3 linked regions of the Homo sapiens genome follow. The protein of the gene in region 3 purifies or fractionates together with the protein of the main gene of each other region. This does not show direct contact. Each region holds a gene or a part of one and is shown on either strand. Other genes may lie near its edges.

Region 1 (3,500 bases), on a different chromosome or scaffold from region 3:
AACAAAATGTTAGTTAGTAAAAGAATTAAGTTGTAAAAACATAATTTCAGCAAAAATCAAACTTACTCTTCAACTGATGTATATGGTATTAATCGTCCATTCCAAAAACATTCAAAAATAGGCCTTTTCCCTCTAGCTGCTTTCTCAAGTATGAAACAATCATCTTCATCATCTTCATCTTTTAATTCTAGATCAAAAGGGCAAATGGAACAAAATGTTTATTGCTAAAATGTGAGAAATAATGAAACAAACACATAAATGTTTCAAATTGCATTCTATAAAACCTAAAGGTAGTTTTATACTGTTTGCCCACAAAAAGGTAGGTTTACAAAGTGGTTCCACATTACGAATGCTGTCTGTCATTTAGAAGTCAATAATTACTTATATATGAACCAATGTACTAGCTGCTGGGCCTGTCATCTTTAAAACCTATTCATGAGGCTAAAAGAGTCTTACATCCAAAAAGATTATCCCCTATAACAAAATCCCTCCTTCCTACAAATATAGGAGCTTAAATCCCGTATCTAAAACAGTTTCACAATTTTATCAGAACTAGTATGTTCACATGAAAGTCATCTGAGAAATCTATGACATCTAATAGCAGCGAGTTTACCTAGTTTGAACAAATTAGTGAATGATGCTAAAATTAAGTTTACTTTTTAGAAATTATTTTCAGATTCAAGTAAGCATGAAAAATGTACACAGAACTGTAAGACATGTTACTATGCATCAAGAGCATTAATTTGCACAATTGTCTATAATCTTATGTTTATTAGCAACACACTCTCGTGTATCCAGATAAATTAGGATTAAACAATGTGATCCTGACATATTAACACCTCAGCTACCCTGGAATTAGTTTACCCACCTAAAACAAAACCTTCTCCCTAAAAGCCCTCACAAGAAGTCCCTTATATAAAAGCTGCTTTCAATCAAACAAAATCACTTTGCTCTTAGAGGAGAATCCCTCTGATTGATCACTCAACTTACTTGCTCTTCTTTTTAAGGCAGCATTTGAAAAAAATTATATCTTTTTGTCTATTAGCACACAAAAATTGGAAACAGCAAATTTAAGAGGTCAGAGATGGCCAGGCACAGGGGCTTACGCCTGTAATCCTAGCACTTTGGGAAGCTGAGGTGGGAGGATTACCTGAGCTCAGAAGTTTGAGACTACCCTTGGCAACATGACAAAACCTTGTCTCTAATAAAATACAAAAAATTAGCCTGGCATGGTGGTGGGCACCTGTAGTCCCAGTTACTCAGGAGGCTGATCCATGAGAATTGCTTGAACCTGGGAGGCAGAGACTGCAGTGAGCCTACATTGTGTCACTGCACTCCAGCGTGTGTGGCAACGCAAGACTTTTGTCTCCAAAAAATAAAAAACAAAACCAAAAAGGCCAGTGGAGCCACTGAGTAACAATATGTACTGGGCAGGAGCACTTAATAAATAGTGTTGAGCACTATTCTGAGAAGTTGCCCCAGTTTTTAAATTTGATCTTCACAACACCCCTATGAGGTGTGAACTACCCATTTCCCAGGTAAGGAAACTAAGGCAGGGAGTAGTTTGTCCAACAGAAAGTGGCAAAGATGGGATTCGAATCAGGATCTCTGGTTGCAGGCCCTAGAAAACCAAGAATGTACTAAGGAAGTATTCTGAATGAAAAAGTTTAATATTGTTAACCTATAAATTCAATGCAATCCCAATAATCTCACTAGAATTACTTCAAGTGAATGTACAAAGCTGATTCCAAAATTATCTAGAAGAGCAAAAGTATTCTCAAAAAGGAACAATAGTGAAAATGTTTTTTCCCAAAGATACCAAATTACAAGATAAAGCTACAAGACAGTATCATTACTCATATTAAAAAAAAATAAAATAGTACTTTATAGTAAAGAATCTAGACCTATGTACTTATGGGAACTTTGTATTATACAAGTTCTAACTCTTGGGTAAATTATAACATTCAATAACTGGTGCTAAGAAACTGAATATGAATACCACATAGAAAATAATTGTTAAATCCCTATCTCTCTACTGGGGGGGGAAAAAAAGGTGGGGGCCAGGTGTGGTGGCTCACACCTGTAATCCTAGTACTTTGGGAGGCCAAGGCAGGAGGATTGTTTCAGGCCAGGATCTTAAGACCAGCCTGGGCAACACGGCAAGACCCCATCACTCAAAAATTTAAATAAATAAATAAAACCCCACCTTGCTCTACATACAAAAAAGAAAAACACAGATGCATTGACCATAAAATGACAACAAAAACAAAAAAGCTACAGATTTATATAATTTTGAGATGTAAAAAGCCTTTCTACAGTAAGACAAAATCAGAAAGCATAAAGAAAAAGTTAGTAAATATGACTGCATAAAGTGTAAAACTGCAACAAGGATAAAGAGAAGACAAGGGAACATATAAAGGATTAATACGCATACATATCTAAAAGTTTGGTTTCGTAACAGAACTAAAAGAAGAGTTCATTAAAGATTTATTCATCTAGAAATGAATGTACACAAAAATCAGGAATTACAAAAATTACAAATACCTAACAATCTAAGACTTGCATAAGAAAAAATTTAATATTTATCTAACCTGAATAACCCAACCGATAATCATTTAGAAAAACAAATCACTGTCCTAAATTACAACTTCATATTTTATAACTAAGATAACAGATTAACATACTTGATGGAAAGCATGGATCATCAGGGTAAGTTTCTCTATCATATAAGAATGGATGATAACGGATAATCCCTTCCACTACACCATCTCCTTCAACATGAGCTTTGAATTCAAAACTATCAGCTGCTGTGTTTACATACAACGTCTGCATGTCGTCTTGTATTTCCCTTAGGTTGACAATCTTAGGTACCTTCCCTTTTTCAAACATAGAAATCTAAAATAAAAAGGAAACAAAAATAATTAAATTCTATGGTAACTTTACTTTTGTTCTCAGCTATGATTCAACAACAGAATAAGTAAAAATTATGTTTATTTGTACAAGTAACAATCTGGCTTAATGAAATACATATATTTACATATGAGTTAAACAGCTTTAAGTAGCATCTCAATAAGGAACATACTACTAAAAAATATAAAGTAAGCAAAGAAACAGCAAATCAGAGCTGAAGGACAGAAAAGTCATGAGTACATTTAATTCGAGGTTTCTTGCTAGAGGTAGGAAGTGGGACAACATCGTATGTGAAATTCTAACGTGTGGGTTAGAGGATTGAGAATCCAATACTCAAATGCTCTGTGCTGCTAAACCTTGTCACCACGATATAACTTCTACAAACAAAAGGAAAGCTACATTATCTCCCTTTTCCTCCATGCTTCAAGAGATGATTGATGTTCAGTAACAATGCATAGCTCCACAGAAGAGAGACAAAAAAAGATAAACCAAGCCTACAGTAAATAAAGGTTTGAGAAAAATACATCTAGGAATAATCTCTTTAGTTGGATATCAAACAATGAAAGTAGTTTGGTAAAAAACAAGGAGAG
Region 2 (3,500 bases), on a different chromosome or scaffold from region 3:
ATCATGCCACTGCACTCCAGTCTGGGCAACAGAGTAAGACTCCATCTCAAAAAAAATGATAATAAAAATTTAAAAAGTCTAGTTCCCATTAATTTAATCCCTGGGCCTACCTAGAGGGCACCCAAAGAGCAATTTGTCTCACTCTGTTCCACAGACTATTTACATAAACCAGGCAGCCAGAACAGGTGGGCGTGTCATGGAGTTCAGACATCTGCCATGACAACAGCTCATCATTGGGCCCATCCACATAGAATCCATTGGATACCAGGCAACCACACACAGGGTGTAAACACTAGCACAGAGCTGGAAGGAGGTGTTGGTGAAGGGACCCAAGCTCAGCAGGAATTGCAACAGAGGAGAGGTGTCACATATCCTCTCCTCTATTTTCCAGTCGCTCACTCTATCTGCTCAACAGGGACCCAGGAGACAGTGTCTGTCTCTTCTGGGTAAGGTGGCGTGGCTAACAGACACAACTTTTTTTTTTTTTTTTTTTTTTTTTTTTTTAGACAGAGTCTCGCTCCGTCACCCAGGCTGGAGTGCAGTGGCGCGACATTCGCTTACTGCCAGCTCCACCTCCCGGGTTCACGCCATTCTCCTGCCTCAGCCTCCCGAGTAGCTGGGACTACAGGCATTCGACACCACGCTTGGCTAATTTTTTTGTATTTTTTTTTTTTTTTTAGTAGAGACGGGGTTTCACTGTGTTAGCCAGGATGGTCTCAATCTCCTGACCTAGTGATCCTCCCATCTTGGCCTCCCAAAGTGCTGGGATTACAGGCGTGAGCCACTGCGCCCAGCCTACAGACACAACTTCTAAGGCCACCAAAGAGAACTGACGGGAAAAAAAAAAAAAAAAAAAAAGAACTGACAGGGAAATAAATGGCCAGGCTTCACAAATGAGAGAAGTGGATGGAAGAGGTATGCAGAGGCTTGGCCTGCTTAGGCACGTCACACACAGCTTCACACTTCAATCTCTCAGAAACCACAACCTATCAATGCCAAGTTCCTGTTAAAAATACTTATTACTGTTCTATATATACAGCTCCCGGTCATAAATAGAGTTATTTATGGGGTGTTAAAGTTGTTTTTCCCTTTTAAAAGTTATATATGCCACCAAAAATAAAACATCACTCCATACATCTGCTAAATTCTACCCTCAAGAATACACAGGGAGGCAAAGTAAAGGATGCTGGACACAAAAGGTAATCTATTGTCTGACTCCACTTATATGAAATGTCAAGAACAGAGGGCTGGGCACAGTGGCTCATGCCTGTAATCCTGGCACTTTGGAGGCTGAGGCGGGTGGATCACTTAAGGTCAGGAGTTCGAGACCAGCCTGGCAAACAAGGTGAAACCCTGTCTCGACTACAAAAATTAGCTGGGTGTGGTGGGCGCCTGTAATCCCAGCTACCAGCTACTCAGCAGGCTGAGGCAGGAGCATTGCTTGAACCCAGGAGGTGGAGGCTGCAGTGAGCCAAGATCGTGCCACAAAAAAAATAAAAAAAGCAAATCCATAGAGACAGAGAGTAGATTAGTAGTTACTGGAGGAGAGTACAGAATGGGGAGTGACTGTTTAACAGGTACAGGGTTTCTTCTTCGAGTGATGAAAATGTTCTGAGATTAGACAGTGGTGACAGTTACACAACACTGTGAATATATTAAAAGCCACTGATTTGTACACTCTAAAAGGTTAAACAATAGGGAGAAAAGTACAATTTAAAATTTCTAGCTAGGTCTTTCCATAAATTGTAACTTGACAAAATAATCTATGGCAACAGAAATCAAAATAGTGGTTATTGAAGACATAGGTTACTGACCAGCAATGGGCATGAGGATTAGGTGGGCTGGGAATAAGTGGTGGTGTATATACACATGTAATATACAAATGTATAGACATGTATAAACATTCAAAGAATTGCACATTTCTGTTTTGTGTATTTTTTTGTGTGTATATTATACCTCAAAACATTTTTTAACCCTACAATTAAAACTTACAATCTCCATATAAAAATTACATTTTGGTGGCTTTGAAGAAGTTAAAACTAATCTGAGTCATATATTCTTTTGCAGGAAATATTTCATTTTATGCCTCATAAATGCACTAAGCGAAACTACTTCTAGTGAAATTGAGGAGGAAAGCAGCACATTTACTTGCGAGTTGGGGTCATAATAGAGCCCTGTTGTCGGATCATAGTAATATCCTGAAGATTCATCATACTGGTAAGTGGACGTGTCAGGTACTGCTGCAAAAACAAAATCCAGCATACAGTCATTCCAGGTAAGAAATTGGCTTTATTTCAAATTCTAAGCCAGTGAGATGCAGCAGGCCTAATGTTTCTTCTCTGTCTCACATCCCCAAGTGTCCCTCTGACACCCGCAAAGGGAGAAGAACTCTCATTAAACAAAGACAACAACTAAGACCTTCCAACTGTCAACAGCCCCATGAGGTTTGGCTTACCATATTTGGTACCAGGAACTACACCAGTAGGGGAAGCGGCTGGGGCCTGTGTACTTGTGCTAGTGCTAGGCTGTGCTTCCTCAGTCTGGAAAGAACAGCAGCTTCAATATAATTTCAACTGTAAAGCCTTTTAAGAGAGCTAAATCACTGCAATCATCCAGGAGGAAGGGCTCCCCTGACAGACACACTGTAGCAATAATCTAAGGCAATCCCTCAGCAAAACACATGTTGACAACTTTTTTGCTTTCTTTTTCAAGAGGAGTCTTGCTCTGTTGCCCAAACTGGACTGCAGTGGCGCAATCTTGGCTCACTGCAACCTCCGTCTCCGGGGTTCAAGCAATTCTCCTGCCTCAGCCTCCCGAGTAGCTGGGATTACAGGCATGTGCCACCACGCCCGGCTAATTTTTGTATTTTTAGTAGAGACGGGGTTTCACCGTGTTAGCCAGGATGGTCTTGATCTCCTAACCTCGTGATCCACCCGCCTCGGCCTCCCAAAGTGCTGGGATTACAGGCGCGAGCCACCACACCCGGCCCCGGCGACAACTTTCTAAAGGTCAAGCATGCATAAAGTGTAAATACACAGTTGAAATTTTATATTTAAAATATACATGCACATATATATCATAAAATTAATATTTTAAAACAACAGAAAGAAATAAGGTTGAAGTGTGTATTACTCAATCCTGGCTCATACAACAGGAAAGGGTAATACTTGTATAGCAAAACAAAATTTCCCCATCAGCCACGAGTTTTGTATATAGGACAACAGGATTACCGGAGAGCCAGGTGGATTGGAGGTTTGATTATACAGCTGAGGACTCTGGGACACTACAGCCGCTGAGGTGGTGGTCACTGCTGTGCCTGATGATAAACACAAGTGTTAGGGAAAGCCAAGGCACTGAACGCCAACCCAAACATCTTTATTTGTAATGCCCAATCTAGCCTTCTTCTGTCATTGTATATGTCAGTTCTTCATAAGCTAACTTCCACTAAGTACCCTGGAATCTGTGACATTTTCATTTTCTTATAATTCTACTAGATGTGA
Region 3 (3,500 bases):
ATAATCAAGAAATACCATGCATTAAGCAAAAAGGAAAAGAATGATAATTGAACCACTCTAAAAGTGGTTCCAAAAAGAGAAGCAGAGAAGTGGCAAATTGTATATGCAGCACAAATAAGTGACAGAGAACTATGCCTAAACTTAAGAAATCATAGAAATCCATAAAGAAAAGATGATTCAATAGAAAGATTTAAACAGATACCTCACAGAAGAAGAAATCCAAATGGACAATTAACATGTGAATTAATAATCAGGGAAATGCAAACTGAGACCTCAATGATATATCACTATATACCCACCAAATGAGCTAAAATTGAAAAGCCGGACAATCAAGTGTGGTGAGATTATAGAACAAGAACTCTCATCTCCTGTTGATGAAATATATATATGAAAAATGCACACACATGCACCTTTGCACATTTACAGAAATGTTCATTGTGGCATTATTTGCAATTATCACTACAACGAAAAGATAATTACTAGAATTAACAAGTTATGGTGTGTATTTTTATACAATGAAACTCTAAATAGTATATCAGAGCTACAGATAGCACACATTAAGTGGGAGGAATAAAGCAAAAACATAAAGGAATACATATTCATTTACATAAACATTTTGAACATTTATATAAAATTTAAAAATTGGCAAGACTATTATCATTTAGAAATGCACACATTGGGCCAGGTGCGCTGGCTCACACCTGTAATCCCAGCACTTTGGAAGGCCGAGGCAGGTGTATCACTTGAGGTCAGGAGTTCGAGGCCAGCCTGGCCAACATGGTGAAACTCCATCTCTACTAAAAATACAAAAATTAGCCAGGCATGGTGGCACGCACCTGTAATCCTAGCTACTCGGGAGGCTGAGGCAGGAGAATCCATTGAGCCTGAGAGAAGGAGGTTGCAGTGAGCTAAGATTGTGCCACTGCAGTCCAGCCTGGGTGACAGAGTGAGACTCTGTCTCAAAAAAATAAATAAATAAATAAAAAAGGAAATGCATACATTGGCATTTGTTGAAATTTGGGGAGGGCTTTATACTTGATTACTTTTTGTAAATATTCAATGTTTATTGAAAAGAATATATATTCTGCTCTGATTACAGTGAACTTTTTACATGCACATAGAAATACAATAAGCATACATATATAATGCACACATATATGTACACACATATAACTTATATAGTAGATCAATGTTGTTGTTTGCTTGATCTGCTCGTCTGAGAGAAATTTATCTTAAAAAAATTCCCACCATGATTTTAGATTTGTCACTTTTTCTTACTTTTGCTTCATATTTTCTCAAGTTATGTCATTAGCTGCATACATGTCCGATAGTAATTTTCCTAGTGGATTTTTCTTCGTAATATAATACATGCACTTCTTTGTCCCTATTAATGTTATTCAACCTAAGAATACTTTTGCTAACTAACATTGCTACATCAAGGTTTTTAAATTAGAATTTGCCTGGCATGTCTTTTTCTATCTCTATTTTCTACATTTTAGTTTTTTAGTTTTAACTATTTTTAATATGTTTGATTTTAATTGTCTTCGCAGTAGTACACTGGTCAGCTGGTGAGGTATTTATGTGATTAGATTAGATGAGAGGTGAGTAACTTATGACATTATCCAGTAACCCAGCCTGGACCATCAGCAAATGATATTTCATTTGGAGGCTGTCTCCAGGAAATAATCTCTCTAAGCCCTAGAATGTCTTCATTTAAAATCAAGATTTTGTTGGTAGAGGGCTAGACACTTTATTTTTATATTCTCACTTGTCAAAACATCAAAGAAAGCACTAGTTTTTTATATTAGAAAATGTGTCATTTTCAGGTTAAAAATTTGAAGTAGATTTCATTATTTATGTTACTTTATTTTAAAATGTAATTTCTGACATGTGGGCATTTTTTTTTTCGTATTCCTATTTAAAAGCCACAAAGAAACATTTTTAAGCAAAATGTTCACATTTTGTGGGCCAATAACTTGGTAAATGAGAGTTTAGTAGAATTGGAGACAGTGATTCAACTGGAAGAGATGGAGAGAGTTGGATTAGAGTTGTGATTGGATTAGGGCTGATTTAATTAGGATTTTGATGGTACATATAAAGCCTGATCTCATATGATTTTTTTCATTTAGAGATTCTCTCCCGAAAGAAAGTCATATTTCTGGGTCTTATCATATCTTCATTTGAAATCGGGATTTCAGACTAATACAATGTAAGTTACTTTTTTCCTTTAAAATATAAAATAGATTAAGGCAATAACTTTTTACAACAGAACACAATTTTTTCCTCTTAAAACTAATTCATTCTTTCATTCGTCCATTCATTCTTTCTTTTATTCACTCATATGGAAACTGTTTATTGGGTAGCTATTGGTGCCAGGCATTGTTTTAATGCTTGACCTATATTACTGAGCAAAACAAAGATCTCTGCCCTTTTAGAACTTATATTCTACATGGGAGAAGTAGAGAAAGAGACAATAAATGTAACATAACTAAATTATATAGGGTCATGGAAGATGATAAATGCCATGTAATTATATATAATATAATTTTAAAAGATAAAAAGAAGAAAGAGGGGAAGGGAGATACGGAGTACAGAATGTTAGGGGACAGAGAGGGAGAACAGTTGCAATTTTAAGTAGAGATGCCCAAGGTTCGTTGGACTCCATTTGAACAAAGACTTGAGTAAGACAGGAAAGAATAGCCTTGGCAGAGAAAATAGCTAGTGTGAGGGCCCTAAAGCAGGAGCAGCTGTGTGCGTGTCCAAGCAACAATATGAAGGAGGTAGCCATGAAAAGCATGAGCAAGTGATGAGGTCAAAGAGGTAGGGGAAAGGGTAGACCATAGAAAACTTTGGAAACCATTGTGAACACCTTGGCTTTTACTGTGAGGGTAATGGGGGACCAATGCCCCCCGCTGTCTGACTGGATCCCCTTTTCTCTCAATCCCATCCAACTATGTTATTAATTTTTTTAATTGTTGCCAATCGGATGCTGTAATGTGATAATCCATTTTTAGTTTACTTTCATTTTCCTCATTAGAAGGTTGAGTGTCTTTCATGTTTATTGACTTGTCTATTTGAAATTGCTTTTTCTGAATGGCCTGCTTATATCTTTTGTCCATTTTTTAATTGGGTAATTTGTGATTTTTATATTATGTGTATCACTAGCAGTAGCAGTAATCCTTTATATGTTATAGGCATTACAAAATTTATTTGCGAATCTAGAATTTATTGACTTGTTTTTGGCATCTACAGCTATAAAATTAATTGTTGGATAAATGAATTTTTAAAAGTATTTCTTTTAAAGCTCTTAAGGTGTTCTGCTTTGATTGAAAGGTCTTTCCAAATTCTAGGTTCTATAAATAGTTTCTTAAATTTTCTTCTTAGGTTTTTATGGTTTCTATTTTCCCTTTTAGGTGTTGATTTTGTTTAAGCTTTAAACTGGAATTCCTATGCTACTCCTGCCATAAAAATAGAAAGTTTTGCAATCAAGGGCCAAACTA

Evidence for each region. Proteins that work in one complex are often made in the same cells at the same time.
Region 1: the proteins of KDM4D (region 3) and SMCHD1 purify together in Homo sapiens (affinity purification with mass spectrometry; one large-scale study listed by BioGRID and IntAct). This does not show direct contact.
Region 2: the proteins of KDM4D (region 3) and RBM5 purify together in Homo sapiens (affinity purification with mass spectrometry; one large-scale study listed by BioGRID and IntAct). This does not show direct contact.

What each region holds. Positions count from the first base shown.
Region 1 is NC_000018.10:2,697,226-2,700,725, reverse strand, and holds part of SMCHD1 (structural maintenance of chromosomes flexible hinge domain-containing protein 1), read right to left. Parts: intron 2,896-3,500; coding exon 2,685-2,895; intron 188-2,684; coding exon 67-187; intron 1-66. UniProt on the Homo sapiens protein: Non-canonical member of the structural maintenance of chromosomes (SMC) protein family that plays a key role in epigenetic silencing by regulating chromatin architecture.
Region 2 is NC_000003.12:50,109,419-50,112,918, reverse strand, and holds part of RBM5 (RNA-binding protein 5), read right to left. Parts: intron 3,317-3,500; coding exon 3,231-3,316; intron 2,541-3,230; coding exon 2,456-2,540; intron 2,241-2,455; coding exon 2,149-2,240; intron 1-2,148. UniProt on the Homo sapiens protein: Component of the spliceosome A complex. Binds to ssRNA containing the consensus sequence 5'-AGGUAA-3'. Regulates alternative splicing of a number of mRNAs.
Region 3 is NC_000011.10:94,976,709-94,980,208, reverse strand, and holds part of KDM4D (lysine-specific demethylase 4D), read right to left. Parts: intron 1-3,500. UniProt on the Homo sapiens protein: Histone demethylase that specifically demethylates 'Lys-9' of histone H3, thereby playing a central role in histone code. Does not demethylate histone H3 'Lys-4', H3 'Lys-27', H3 'Lys-36' nor H4 'Lys-20'.